Linked DNA regions of Homo sapiens: all the other regions are reported to be linked to region 3. The links are microRNA targets in miRTarBase. Many come from high-throughput screens and were not tested one by one. Region 3 holds a microRNA gene; each other region holds the end of a gene's coding sequence.

Region 1 (4,000 bases), not on the chromosome of region 3:
GAGTGCAGTGGCATGATCTCAGCTCACTGCAACCTCTGCCTCCTGGGTTCAAGTGATTCTCGTGCCTCAGCCTCCCAAGTAGCTGGAATTAAAGGCATGTGCCACCGTGCCCAGCTAATTTTTTTTTAGTAGAGACAGGGTTTTGTCGTGTTGGTCAGGCTGGTCACGAACTCCTGACCTCAAGTGATCTGCCCGCCTCAGCCTCCCAAAGTGCTGGGATTACAGGTGTGAGCTACCGCACCTGGCCCATGTGCACCATAATTAATTTACTTCCTTTAAAAACCAAGTAGGAATACTTTTGTAAATGCTTGCTTTTTCTTTTTAGTGTTTACTTTTAAAATTTGCTTAAGGGTAAATTGCCTGTTCATAGCCTTTGCCTATTTATCATTGACTCTTTAATCAACAAATATTAACTGATCATCTACACTATGAGAGGTGCCCAGGAACATCTGTTTTAAATGAACCTTGAAAATACCATGCAATGAACTTCTTTGTTATTACATTTAGTTCATATTTTTCCCTAGTCTAATGGTCTATTTAATATTTTATTACTCTACATTAAGTTTTAAAAATGTATATAATCAGATTTGTGTCATGTTTTCCCTGTGTGGTGTTCTTCCTATTAGAGGATTTATGCTTAGAAGGTTATCACCCCATATCTAATCAATACTTAATTCCATTTAATATTTAATTATATGGTTTTCCTTTTAAAATTCTAAGTCTTTAATCCAATATCTCTGAATTAAACACTAGTCTACCAAAACTATGTATGTAGAATGCAATATTCAAAAAAAGCAAACCAAAACAAAAACAAAATGTTCACATAAGTATGGGACAGCTGACTTTCACAAAGTTGATTAAACTTCCCTACAAGGATGCCTCAGAGACTTGACATGCTAATGAATCTTGCTAGTCTCCAGGACGGGGGAGGACTGGCAAGATCAGTACAAAATATTCCTCAAATGTTGTGATCATGGACTCCTTTGTTGGTGAAGCACCACTTGGGGTGTCACGCTTTGACAATAAAGTGACGATTTTTGTCTGCTTTACTCCCTGCTGTATTCCTAGTACATAGTAGATGCTCAGGAAATATCACAGAGTTGAGCAAACAAATGAGCACATGCACAGTTAAATATAACAGATCTCATCTAGTACAGCAATACTGAGCCACATCTCTAAGGTGCAGGGAGGTGTGGGGACTTCGCATGGTTCCCTGCTGTACCTAGGGCTTAGAATAAGGCCTAGGACAAACATTTGCTGAATAAATGAATGCATAAAGGAATGAGTCACTTGCACAGCCCAGCACCTGACTTACAGTCCCTAACATCCCTCCTTAAATGGAAGTGGGAATATATCACCCAGGTAAGAGTACAGAACCCTTGGTCATGACCTGAGGCAGCTCTGAAGGTAGATCCAGGCATCAGAGACCAGAGCCTCAGGAACACCCATTTGGAGGTGCCAGGGACCTCATGAGGTTCACAGGTGACTTTTCATACCACTGTCAGAAGCCCAGCTACGCCCAGCTACGCCCAGCCAGGAAATGGCAGGCATCCCACCCAGGGGAGGCTGAGGACCAGATGACTTTGGCACTGCCCAGGATAGCCAAGTGAGGCTCCAAATCTTTCCCTTAAACACAGCCTGGAGTTGCCTGGGGCCTGCCATGAATACTATACTTCGGGTGGTGCTAGGGCAGGGCCTCACACCATAGATACTGAATACCCTGAGCCTTTGGGACAGGAGAGGTCTCTTAGGATGGCAGTGGCTCTCCATCTGATGAGCACACTGCCAACTTCATTGCCATCCTAATATTGATGCCCAGTCCTTCCTACTTACCTTCCACTTGCCACTCAGCTGTGCACCAGCGTGAAGTGTTCCAGACCAACCTTTGCTGAATAGGAACCTAAATTAGTGTAAGGTTCATGGGGAAAGCTCTCCTGTAGAGCCACGCTTGGGTGTGCGGGGGAAACGGGTAAAGGTAGCCATCAATACAGTCTGCTTCTAATCGCTGAGGGGACACTGACCCTCACCCACTATGCCCAGCATCTAGAACAGCAAAGTACAATGAGTGTTCAAGAAAGAGATCCCAAAGCCTAGCCCAGGAGCATTGGTGACAGTTTCCAAATATTACCCAGGGGTAATATTTCCTTTCAGAGTGCCCAGCGCAGCCCCAGAGAGTCCTGTGTTACCTCAAGTGCAAGTCCCGCCAGCAGTTTAGGGAAAATGAACCCCCTACACCAATCCCTGTGTGTGAGGTTTTAGAAGCTTCCACGGCAAAGAAGAGAGGAAACAATGAGCTTTATAAAGAACAATATTTATTTCCATTTACAGCATCAAATACCATAAATAAAGCTAAACATTGTTTGTTTTGCTGTGTGCAAAATACAGGGTTCCGTGTGGCACTGTAAATGATTACCAAAGGTCACAGACATGCGTTGTGATGAGATGGGGAGGCTAGCTAAAGAGGAGGCTGAGAGGGGAGGAGGGCACTCTTTGGTTGACATTCTATAAAGGGAGGGAGACTCTGTAAGAGAAGATAAGACAAGAGCAACGACTTTGTACTGGCCAGGATCTGCACAAATACAGTGAGCGTGCAGCATGCAGGGCCAGGCAGGCAGGCCCGGGGGTCAGGGTGGTCTGGGCCACATGCAGGACAGACGCCCACCGCAGCCTGAGACCGCGAGTGTTGCCTAGGACAGCTCCACGGTGCTTGGTGTGTTGTTTCTCGTTAAGAGTGTGTTGGTGATTATCCTGCTGCCCCAGGTACAAGAGTCAGCAGAAATGTGTGCTTTAAGCAGAGTCACAGGGGCCTGGGGCTGAACTGAGTCATTTCTCAAAGATATCCCTGCCTGGGATGATGATGGCTCTAATTGAAGCTCTGGCATCATCTGGGGCTTTATGAGCCAAGGGAGATAAGAAGAGCCACAGCAAAACCCTTGGGTCTACAGTGCAGGCTGCAACCAAGGCAGCATTTGCTAGAATATTTGTGATTATGTGTTCAACCTACAGAGCATGTGTCAAGCTTGGGATGAGGCCTGAGAGTAATTAAGTTTTTTAAATCCCTCCAAATAATCACCTATGGTTTTGATAAATGACATTAACAATCTTTACATTAGAGCCAATTTAAGAAGGCGCTGGTATGTATGAGCTTTTTGAGGCTGCTCAAAAAGTGTTCTTTTCAAAGGTGACAGAGGCCCCCTCATGGTATTGTTTCATGATCAAGGTCGACCCTCCCAAGAAAGTAGGTAGCTTCGCAGACGCAACTGGAGAAGCATGCACGCAGGCAGACCCAAGGGAGAGAGGAGAGGCGGGGCATGCACTTGGGGTAGACCAGGCTGCCAGCTCCATGGGAAATGAACACAGGCATGGGTCTCAAGCTGAACACCCCCCGCCATGCTGTTAGCCAACCATGCCACCAAATGAGTCCATCAGTATGCAAGACACTCACAGTTAGTGCAACCAGTACTGCTGGCGGAGAGGACGGGGTGCGGAAAGCGGGTTGGGGGTTAGTACCACTCTTTGAAAATTGGCAAGAAAACCAGTCACCTTAGAGCAGAAGTGTGTCAGCCAAGAAGTGGGTGTAGCACTGGAAGGCTGAAATGAACTGATGGCCATGGCGTAAGATTGGAAAGAGAGAGAAAGATAGAAAAGAGAGCTTAGTGTGGGGAAAAAAGGAAATGATTAACATCACGAGAAGGCACCGGAGTTGAAAATAAGGCCACGATTGAAAGAGGGAAACTTCCTCTGAAAGAGTCGCTGTTTGCTTAGGAGAGATGAACCTTTCTGGTTGTGACCAGCTACTTGTTTACGAGAGTGGATGCACACAGTTTGCATCTTGCTCCCTGATATCCTCTCTGCCCCCATTTTACTCTAGCGTCTCCCATTCATTCTTGAATATGTTGCGGAGGCCTAGAGGCATTCATCCTCGGGGGTCCACCCCTGGGTGTCGGTGCTGCCCACCAGAAAGGTTCAACATCTCAGAGCGTACAAACATCTCAGATTT
Region 2 (4,000 bases), not on the chromosome of region 3:
CAAGGTGAAAATGGGATTGTTAGCAGAAAAGACAGGCAGCAGGCTTTAGTGGGTAGTTCTAGCCTCTCATTTTTACTTTCCTCATCTCGTCCGTCCAGTAAGCTTCTCAACACTGAAACATGACATAAATAAGAAAAAAAGATAGGGGGAGGAAATAATTGTGACATTTTTCTGACCGTAATAGATTTTTGTTGTTTTTTTTGTTGTTGTTGTTGTTTGTAGGCTTTCCAGTCAATAACAGCAGCAGTGATAATGCTCAGAACTTTAGTTTTAAAACAAACTCTGGATTTGCTGCTGCCTCTTCTGGAAGCCCTGCTGGTTTTGGGAGTTCCCCAGCATTTGGAGCTGCAGCCTCTACCAGTTCAGGTATCTCTACTTCTGCTCCAGCTTTTGGATTTGGGAAGCCTGAAGTCACATCGGCTGCATCATTTTCATTCAAAAGCCCTGCAGCTTCCAGTTTTGGATCACCTGGATTTTCAGGACTTCCAGCTTCCTTGGCAACAGGTCCTGTCAGAGCTCCAGTGGCCCCAGCCTTTGGAGGTGGCAGTTCTGTGGCTGGTTTTGGTAGTCCGGGCTCACATTCTCACACTGCTTTTTCTAAGCCATCCAGTGACACTTTTGGAAATAGCAGCATATCCACTTCTCTGTCAGCCTCAAGCAGCATCATTGCAACAGATAATGTGTTATTCACACCCAGAGATAAACTAACAGTAGAAGAACTGGAACAATTTCAATCCAAGAAATTTACTCTGGGAAAAATTCCATTAAAGCCTCCACCTCTGGAACTTCTAAATGTTTAAAAGGGCAATTTTAAATACAAAAAAGAATGATGTTTAAAATTGCTTTGAGTGATTCATACAGAGATGTATATATGCATACATGTATATATTCATAAGGAATATAAGCTTCCATCAATAGTGATTTTAAATTTGATTTTTTTCTTAACTCTAAATATTTAAGTAAAAAGTAACAAAAACTCTGCAAGCAAGGGAATTTTTTTGTACTGTAATTTTGAATGGAACTGAAAAATTATGCACGAATAAAGTACTTTTCTCATGCCATACCACTTTACTGTCTCACAATTTAAAGTTTTAAACTTTTTTTTTTAGGAAGGAGATAATTTCTGTAATTATTAGGGGGAACATGCTCAAATATTTAACCTACTTTTAGAGTAAACATTAGTAGCATGACTTCATGTTCAGGATTCTCTCAAAGAGATAAATCAGTTTGTAAAGAGTGACAAGCTTTTAGTTTTAGAACCATAGGGGCATTTCCCCCCCGATAAGTTTGGTTCCCTCTCAACTTTGGCGGTCTCGTGGACCACCATTTGAGTTTTCTTCAACAATCTTAGGCTGCTTTTTATTTTGGCCTCACTTTTATAGAATTCTATTTATTCATCACATTAGTCTGTCAAATGGATGAGTTGTAAGAGAAACAAATTGTGATCTCATGTGAATAAATAATGTGTGTAGTGGGGTCAGGATTCACCAGTTTCTGTTTCTAGATCTTCTCAGGCATGGCCAGGTACAGTAGCTCACACCTGTAATCCCAGCACTTTGGGAGGCTGAAGCGGGCAGATCACTTGAGGTCAGGAGAGTTCGAGACCAGCCTGGCCAACATGGTGAAACCCTATCTCTACTAAAAATACAAAAAATAAGCTGGGTGTGGTGGCGGGCACCTGTAATCCCAGCTACTCAGGTGGCTGAGGCAGGAGAATCACTTGAACCCGGGAGGCAGAGGTTGCAGTGAGCTGAGATCACACCACTGCCCTCCAGCCTGGGTGACAGAGCGATACTCCATCCCCTTTCCTGCCCTCCCCCAACAAAAAAAGAATTATTGTGCATGTTTGGATCTCCCTGTGTCCTCAGATTGAGGGAGTAAGATTTATATTTTACATATGGATGATCCAAGAAACTAAATGCCTGTCACGAGTTGAAGCAGGTATATCAGACTTCTGCGCTTTCTCAGTCCTCAAAAATTGCATAGCTAGCACTGCCAGAGCAGTTACTAACACGGTTCTGGCATTCAGCTGATTTTTCTAAGTGAATATAAAACCTTACATAATAAAAGATATGCCCTCCAAATGATTTTAACGTATGCAAAGGATTCAGTCCTCAAAAGACCTGCATTCTCCATTACACTTTTGTTGTTGTTCTTGTTGTTGTTGTTGTTATTGTTGTTGAGACGGAGTCTCACTCTGTCGCCCAGGCTGGAGTGCAGTGGCGCGATCTCGGCTCACTGCAAGCTCCGCCTCCTGGGTTCACGCCATTCTCCTGCCTCAGCCTCCTGAGTAGCTGGGACCACAGGCGCCCACCACCACGCCCGGCTAATTTTTTTGTATTTTTAGTAGAGACGGGGTTTCACCATGTTAGCCAGGATGGTCTTGATCTCCTGACCTCATGATCCGCTTGCCTCAGCCTCCCAGATTTCTGGGATTACAGGCATGAGCCACCATGCCTGGCTCCATTACACTTTTTGAGGAGCTGCATGACTCATCTGACAGTTCTGGAACCCCAGTGTTTGGTACAGAATCTATACTATAACCAGGGGATATATATTTGAAACCATGCTGGTGTAGAGATGGTAAATAGAGCATAAGTTCCTTTAGAAGGAGCAAGATTAAAACAAAAAGAGCATAAATTCCTTCTTTGGTCTCAAGCTCTACAGACTTTCCAGTATTCGAACTAATACTTGAATCCTAGAATTTTCCTGCCCCGCCCCCCCCCCCCCCGGGATGACCCCTACACTACCTCTAAATTGCATACAAGCTCCCTGAGGTCTCAGTTGAACTTCCCAGTGTCCTGGAAGATCTCAGAAAATCCTAGTTAAAAGCCCATTGTTTCCAACTGTGCCTGATTATAGGAATCACCTGGGGTGTTAAATAATATATCCAGATAACATATCCAAATTACAGGAGCTGCCCATTGGGATGGGCTTGGGAATATGTCAACAGGTATTCCTTGTGGTCCTTCAGGCAAGTTTGGGAAACAGGACTATCCAGCTGGATTTAGGCTACTTAGTAATACCTGATTTGGGAGTTTTAATTGTTGAAGTCTGTTTTCTGTGCTCCCATATAGACAAAAATGTGGGAATTTAACAGGATCCGAAGTTTTTTAAAAAGCACAAATAAGTGCTACAGGCTACTAAAAAATTTTGAGAAACTAAAGCAGAGAGGCCCACAAAGTAGAAACTAGCACCATGCATACATACTGGTGTCAGAAGTCAAGAAAACTGGTAACTCCCAGACCTAGGCTAAGGGGCATCGCGGCTTCAGAAAATCAGAAACAGGTAACAATGAGGTGGCAGCAGCTGGGTATAAAGGTAGGTTGAGTGTTCAGACCCCAAGAGGGAGGTAGTAGAAGGGAAAAGGCACCCACAACAAAAGGATGTGCCAGCATCTTCTGGATGGTATCTCCTAATCTCATATCCAGTGAGACTAGCAGAGCTGGACTAACTAAGAGGCATACCCTAAAATAGGCAAAAATAGCCTGCCTTCACAGCTGCTGTAATAGCTGTCCTTTTCACCTAAGGTCTAGAGCAAGTGACAGAATTGTAGATAAGGTATAGCAAATAAACTGATTTAACTCGATTGATTATCTGATCACAGATTAGAAGGGGAGAATGGTAACAGCTGAGAGCTGATTAAAAGGGGAGAGAAAGTGAGCTGATATTAAAACTAAAAGGTATAAAATGATTTAGCTATGCAGTATTATTCATGAGTAAAATAATTCAACTTGAAGCATCAAACAATGATTTAATTGTGGTAGATACATACATTGGAATACTAAACAGCCTTTCTAAATGACTTAATAGAGAATAACTTGGAAATGTTTTCATTCTGCAATCAGTGGACGAGAGTTTGCTATAAAAAGAGCATGTACAGTGTGATCCAATTTGGAGAGAAAGAATATATTAATGGGGGGGAGGCTAAAACTTAACAATAATAGCTCAAATTTTAGTGAGTTTTTGCTATGTGCCAGACAATGTCCTAAGCATTCTG
Region 3 (4,150 bases):
ATTAAAATAAATTGTTTTTAATTAGCTGGGGGTGGTGTTGCACGCCTGTAGTCCCAGCTACTCAAGAGGCTGAGGTGGGAGGATCACTTGAACCCAGGAGGTCAAGGCTATAGTGAGCCATGATCATACTATTGCACTTCAGCATGGGCGACAGTGTGAGACCCTGTCACGAAAAAAAAAAAAGTTTCTTTTTCTTTAAAATTACTAGACTATTCTTAGAGCAGTTTTAGGTTTACAGAAAAACTGAGCACAAAGCACAGAGTTCCCATATACTCCCTGTCTCCACACCCAGAATGTCCCTTATTATAAATGTCTTGTCTTTGGTGTGGTACTCTTCAGTCTCTCTTCATCTGTAGCAGTGCCCATGCCTTTTTTTTTTTTTTTTAATGTCATTTATTTGTTGAAGAAACTGGGTCATTTGTTGTGTAGAATGTTCCACATTCTGGGTTTGTCCTTGTGCTAGTGTTTAACACACCCCTCCTCTCCTATATTTCTTGTGTGTTGGTGGTTAGATTTAGAAACCTGATTAGATTCATGTCCCACATTTTTGGCAAGAAAAATTCCCAGGTGGTTCTGTGAACTTCTTCTTGCGTCACATCAGGCACTTGGTGTCTGGTGCCCCAGTTGTAGTGATGTGAAGATTGATTAGCCATCTGCAGCACTCCTAACAACCTCTCTTGATCGCATCCTGGGATCACTGCCCTGGAAACATCCTCTCCCTTTTCTTAGCCCCTGCTTTCTTCCCTTGCCTGCCTGGCTTCTATGCTCCCAAGCCCATCTTCTAGGCACCCAGATTGAGGCTCCATGGCAAGCAGCAGGGACAGGGGCAGCAGGTAGCCTGACCCCAGGAAAGAGATGTGGGTGACCTTGCATGTCTCCAGGTTACATCCACTACCAGCCTGCCCAGGACCGGCTGCAACCCCACCTCCTGGAGATGCTGATTCAGCTGCCGGCCAACTCAGTCACCAAGGTTTCCATCCAGTTTGAGCGGGCGCTGCTGAAGTGGACCGAGTACACGCCAGATCCTAACCATGGCTTCTATGTCAGGTGGGCTCCACCCCCACAGGCCACCTCTCATCCCCCTGACCTACCCTTTCTGCTGCTTACCCCTTGATAGGGCAGCCAGATGGGAACACGGGCCATCTCTCTGCTTCTCTGTAGCCCATCTGTCCTCAGCGCCCTTGTGCCCAGCATGGTAGCAGCCAAGCCAGTGGACTGGGAAGAGAGTCCCCTCTTCAACAGCCTGTAAGTGTGACCACACTCACTGATAACACATCCTCAGCTGCCTGCTGGGCCTTAACACAGGTGACCAGGCTCCTGCAGGGGAGTTCAGGGTAGATGTTACATCTTCCAAAGAGATGTGTAGATTTAATTCAATCCTAATAAAAATCCTGGCAGTCTGTGGAATTTGTGAAGACTTTATAAAATGATTTTAAAGTGCTTCTAGAAGAATACTTTTACTTACAGCCTACATTTACTTCTTGATGCTCTTAAATATTTAATCAAGCACTTATCAAATGCCAAGTGCTTCTGAGAGCACTGAGTGTGCAAGATTAAACAAAACAGACTTGGCCCTGGCCTCCCTTTGCTTACAGTCTAGAAGGAAGATTCTGGTCTAGAGAGTAATGGGGTTAGAGGTTGGGTAGGAATTGATTTACTGGGTTATCTAGGAAGGCTTCATTTAGGAGGTGGCATTTAGGCTGAAACCAGGCTAAGAAAGAAGCAACCAAGCAAAGGCGGGGCCCCTTTCCTCCACCTCAACACCAGGCGTCTCTCTTTCTTTCCTTTCTCTCTCTTTCTTTCTTTCTCTTTCTTTCTTTCTTTCTTTCTTTCTTTCTTTCTTTCTTTCTTTCTTTCTTTCTTTCTTTCTTTCTCTTTCTTTCTTTCTTATTTATTTTTTATTTTACTTTAAGTTCTGGGATACATGTGCAGAACATACAGGTTTGTTACATAGGTATATATGTGCCACGGTGGTTTGCCGTACCCATCAACCCATCATCTAGGTTTTAAGCCCCGCATGCATTAGGTATTTGTCCTAATGCTCTCCCTCCCCTTGCCCCCCGCCCGCCGCTCCCCTTTATCAGGTTTAGAGATTGAGCTATGCCTTCTGTTGAAAGGTTTTGAGCCTAAGAGAACATTGGAAACACTGTGTTGCATTGCCCAATACTGCCGGAATGAGGATGGGGTGAGATGGGGAGGAGCAGCCAGTCCTGTCTCACCGCTCTTCCCCTGACCCCAGGTTCCCAGTCTCTGATGGCTCTAACTACTTTGTGCGGCTCTACACGGAGCCGCTGCTGGTGAACCTGCCGACACCGGACTTCAGCATGCCCTACAACGTGATCTGCCTCACGTGCACTGTGGTGGCCGTGTGCTATGGCTCCTTCTACAATCTCCTCACCCGAACCTTCCACATCGAGGAGCCCCGCACAGGTGGCCTGGCCAAGCGGCTGGCCAACCTTATCCGGCGCGCCCGAGGTGTCCCCCCACTCTGATTCTTGCCCTTTCCAGCAGCTGCAGCTGCCGTTTCTCTCTGGGGAGGGGAGCCCAAGGGCTGTTTCTGCCACTTGCTCTCCTCAGAGTTGGCTTTTGAACCAAAGTGCCCTGGACCAGGTCAGGGCCTACAGCTGTGTTGTCCAGTACAGGAGCCACGAGCCAAATGTGGCATTTGAATTTGAATTAACTTAGAAATTCATTTCCTCACCTGTAGTGGCCACCTCTATATTGAGGTGCTCAATAAGCAAAAGTGGTCGGTGGCTGCTGTATTGGACAGCACAGAAAAAGATTTCCATCACCACAGAAAGGTCGGCTGGCAGCACTGGCCAAGGTGATGGGGTGTGCTACACAGTGTATGTCACTGTGTAGTGGATGGAGTTTACTGTTTGTGGAATAAAAACGGCTGTTTCCGTGGTTCTTTGCCTCTTGTCCTTGAGTCCTGGGAAGAGCTGGGGACTGGGGATTGTTTGCTGAGTGCCTGAACAGGACCTCCTACCCTATGCCTGCAACCCCCTCCACAAAAAACAAAAAACCCTACCTCCTCCCACCTGGCCGGAAATTTCTTCTCCTGATCTGCTCCCCCTGTCCTCCCCATCCCCATCTGATTGTGATTCCCAGAACTCCCCGGGTTGTTTGGGAGTGTTTCTGAAAGCATAATCCATGGCCATGGAAATGAATCATCCTACTTCTTGGGGGCATTGAGAGTCAGTCCACATCAGCAAGGGTAGAGTGGAGAGGTGGGAGGGCTCTGGGTGGTGGGTCTCTAACTGTAGTGTGCATCAGAGTCACTGGGGGCACTTGTGAAAATAATGTATGTTCCTGGGGTCCAGATCCTACTAATTCAGTTGGTCTGGGTGTGGCCCAGACTTTGACTTTTTAGCAGGCTTCTCAGGAGCTCCTGCTGTGCTCTGTCCTCAGACCACCCCCAGGCTTTGAAGCCAGGCTCATTGGATTGAAGCCCGCCCCGCCCACCTCCCTTGCTGGTTACATAACCCTGGATTTCTGTAAAACAAGCCTTTAGGCGGTTGCCTCCCACTGCCCTCATCTTCTGTCTTTTCCTCTGGCACACTTGGCATCAACTGTGTGTTATTTGCAGTTCCCCCCACCTCCTACCCCACTCAGTTCTCCCATCATAGTGGTTTGGCCTAGAATGCCCTATTCCACCAACCATGCACACCTCTCAACTGCCTGGTTCCCTCATAAAACCAGATGAGGCTGGCCGGGCACGGTGTCTCATGCCTGTAATCCCAGCACTTTGGGAAGCCAAGGTGGGCAGATCACAAGGTCAAGAGATCGAGACCATCCTGGCCAACATGGTGAAACCCCGTCTCTACTAAAAATACAAAAAAAAATTAGCTGGGCATAGTGGCGCGCGCCTGTAGTCCCAGCTACTCGGTAGGCTGAGGCAGGAGAATCGCTTGAACCTGGGAGGCAGAGGTTGCAGTGAGCCAAGATTGCGCCACTGTACTCCAGCCTGGTGACAGAGTGAGACTCTGTCTCAAACACACACACACACACACACACCCCAGATGAGAAGTTGCTGCCTCCGGGAAGTTTCCCTTGACGTGTCCGTGCCCCACGCCTTTGCTTCCAGATTGCCTTGGACTTAACACGTGTTCCTTATCAGCTGGCTGCTGTCCTTTGACTTCCACCAGAT

The links. The annotated mature microRNA hsa-miR-6812-5p reads AUGGGGUGAGAUGGGGAGGAGCAGC and lies in region 3 at 2,181-2,205, shown strand. An mRNA with a match to its seed (bases 2 to 7 or 8) in the 3' UTR can be bound and repressed. Matches are read on the target gene's strand: a 7mer-m8 pairs with bases 2 to 8, a 7mer-A1 pairs with bases 2 to 7 and ends in A, and an 8mer does both.
Region 1: the mRNA of MICAL2 is a reported target of hsa-miR-6812-5p. The part of its 3' UTR that is shown has no 7-base or 8-base seed match.
Region 2: miRTarBase lists NUP42 as a target of hsa-miR-6812-5p. The part of its 3' UTR that is shown has no 7-base or 8-base seed match.

What each region holds. Positions count from the first base shown.
Region 1 is chr11:12,262,081-12,266,080 of GRCh38, reverse strand. It overlaps MICAL2 (microtubule associated monooxygenase, calponin and LIM domain containing 2), which reads right to left. Exons shown (of 28, transcript NM_001282663.2): 27 at 3,544-3,601; 28 at 2,296-2,521. The coding sequence ends at 3,561. Among named protein-coding and RNA genes, the nearest start is that of MIR6124, 100 kb to the right of the region's middle.
Region 2 is chr7:23,199,946-23,203,945 of GRCh38, forward strand. It overlaps NUP42 (nucleoporin 42), which reads left to right. Exons shown (of 7, transcript NM_007342.3): 7 at 223-1,061. The coding sequence ends at 800. Among named protein-coding and RNA genes, the nearest start is that of NUP42, 20 kb to the left of the region's middle.
Region 3 is chr20:45,423,335-45,427,484 of GRCh38, forward strand. It overlaps MIR6812 (microRNA 6812), which reads left to right and starts at 2,176; the gene lies at 2,176-2,239. It overlaps PIGT (phosphatidylinositol glycan anchor biosynthesis class T), which reads left to right. Exons shown (of 12, transcript NM_015937.6): 10 at 882-1,047; 11 at 1,162-1,245; 12 at 2,240-2,907. The coding sequence ends at 2,492. It overlaps LOC105372631 (a long non-coding RNA gene), which reads left to right and starts at 4,088. Exons shown (of 4, transcript NR_159957.1): 1 at 4,088-4,150.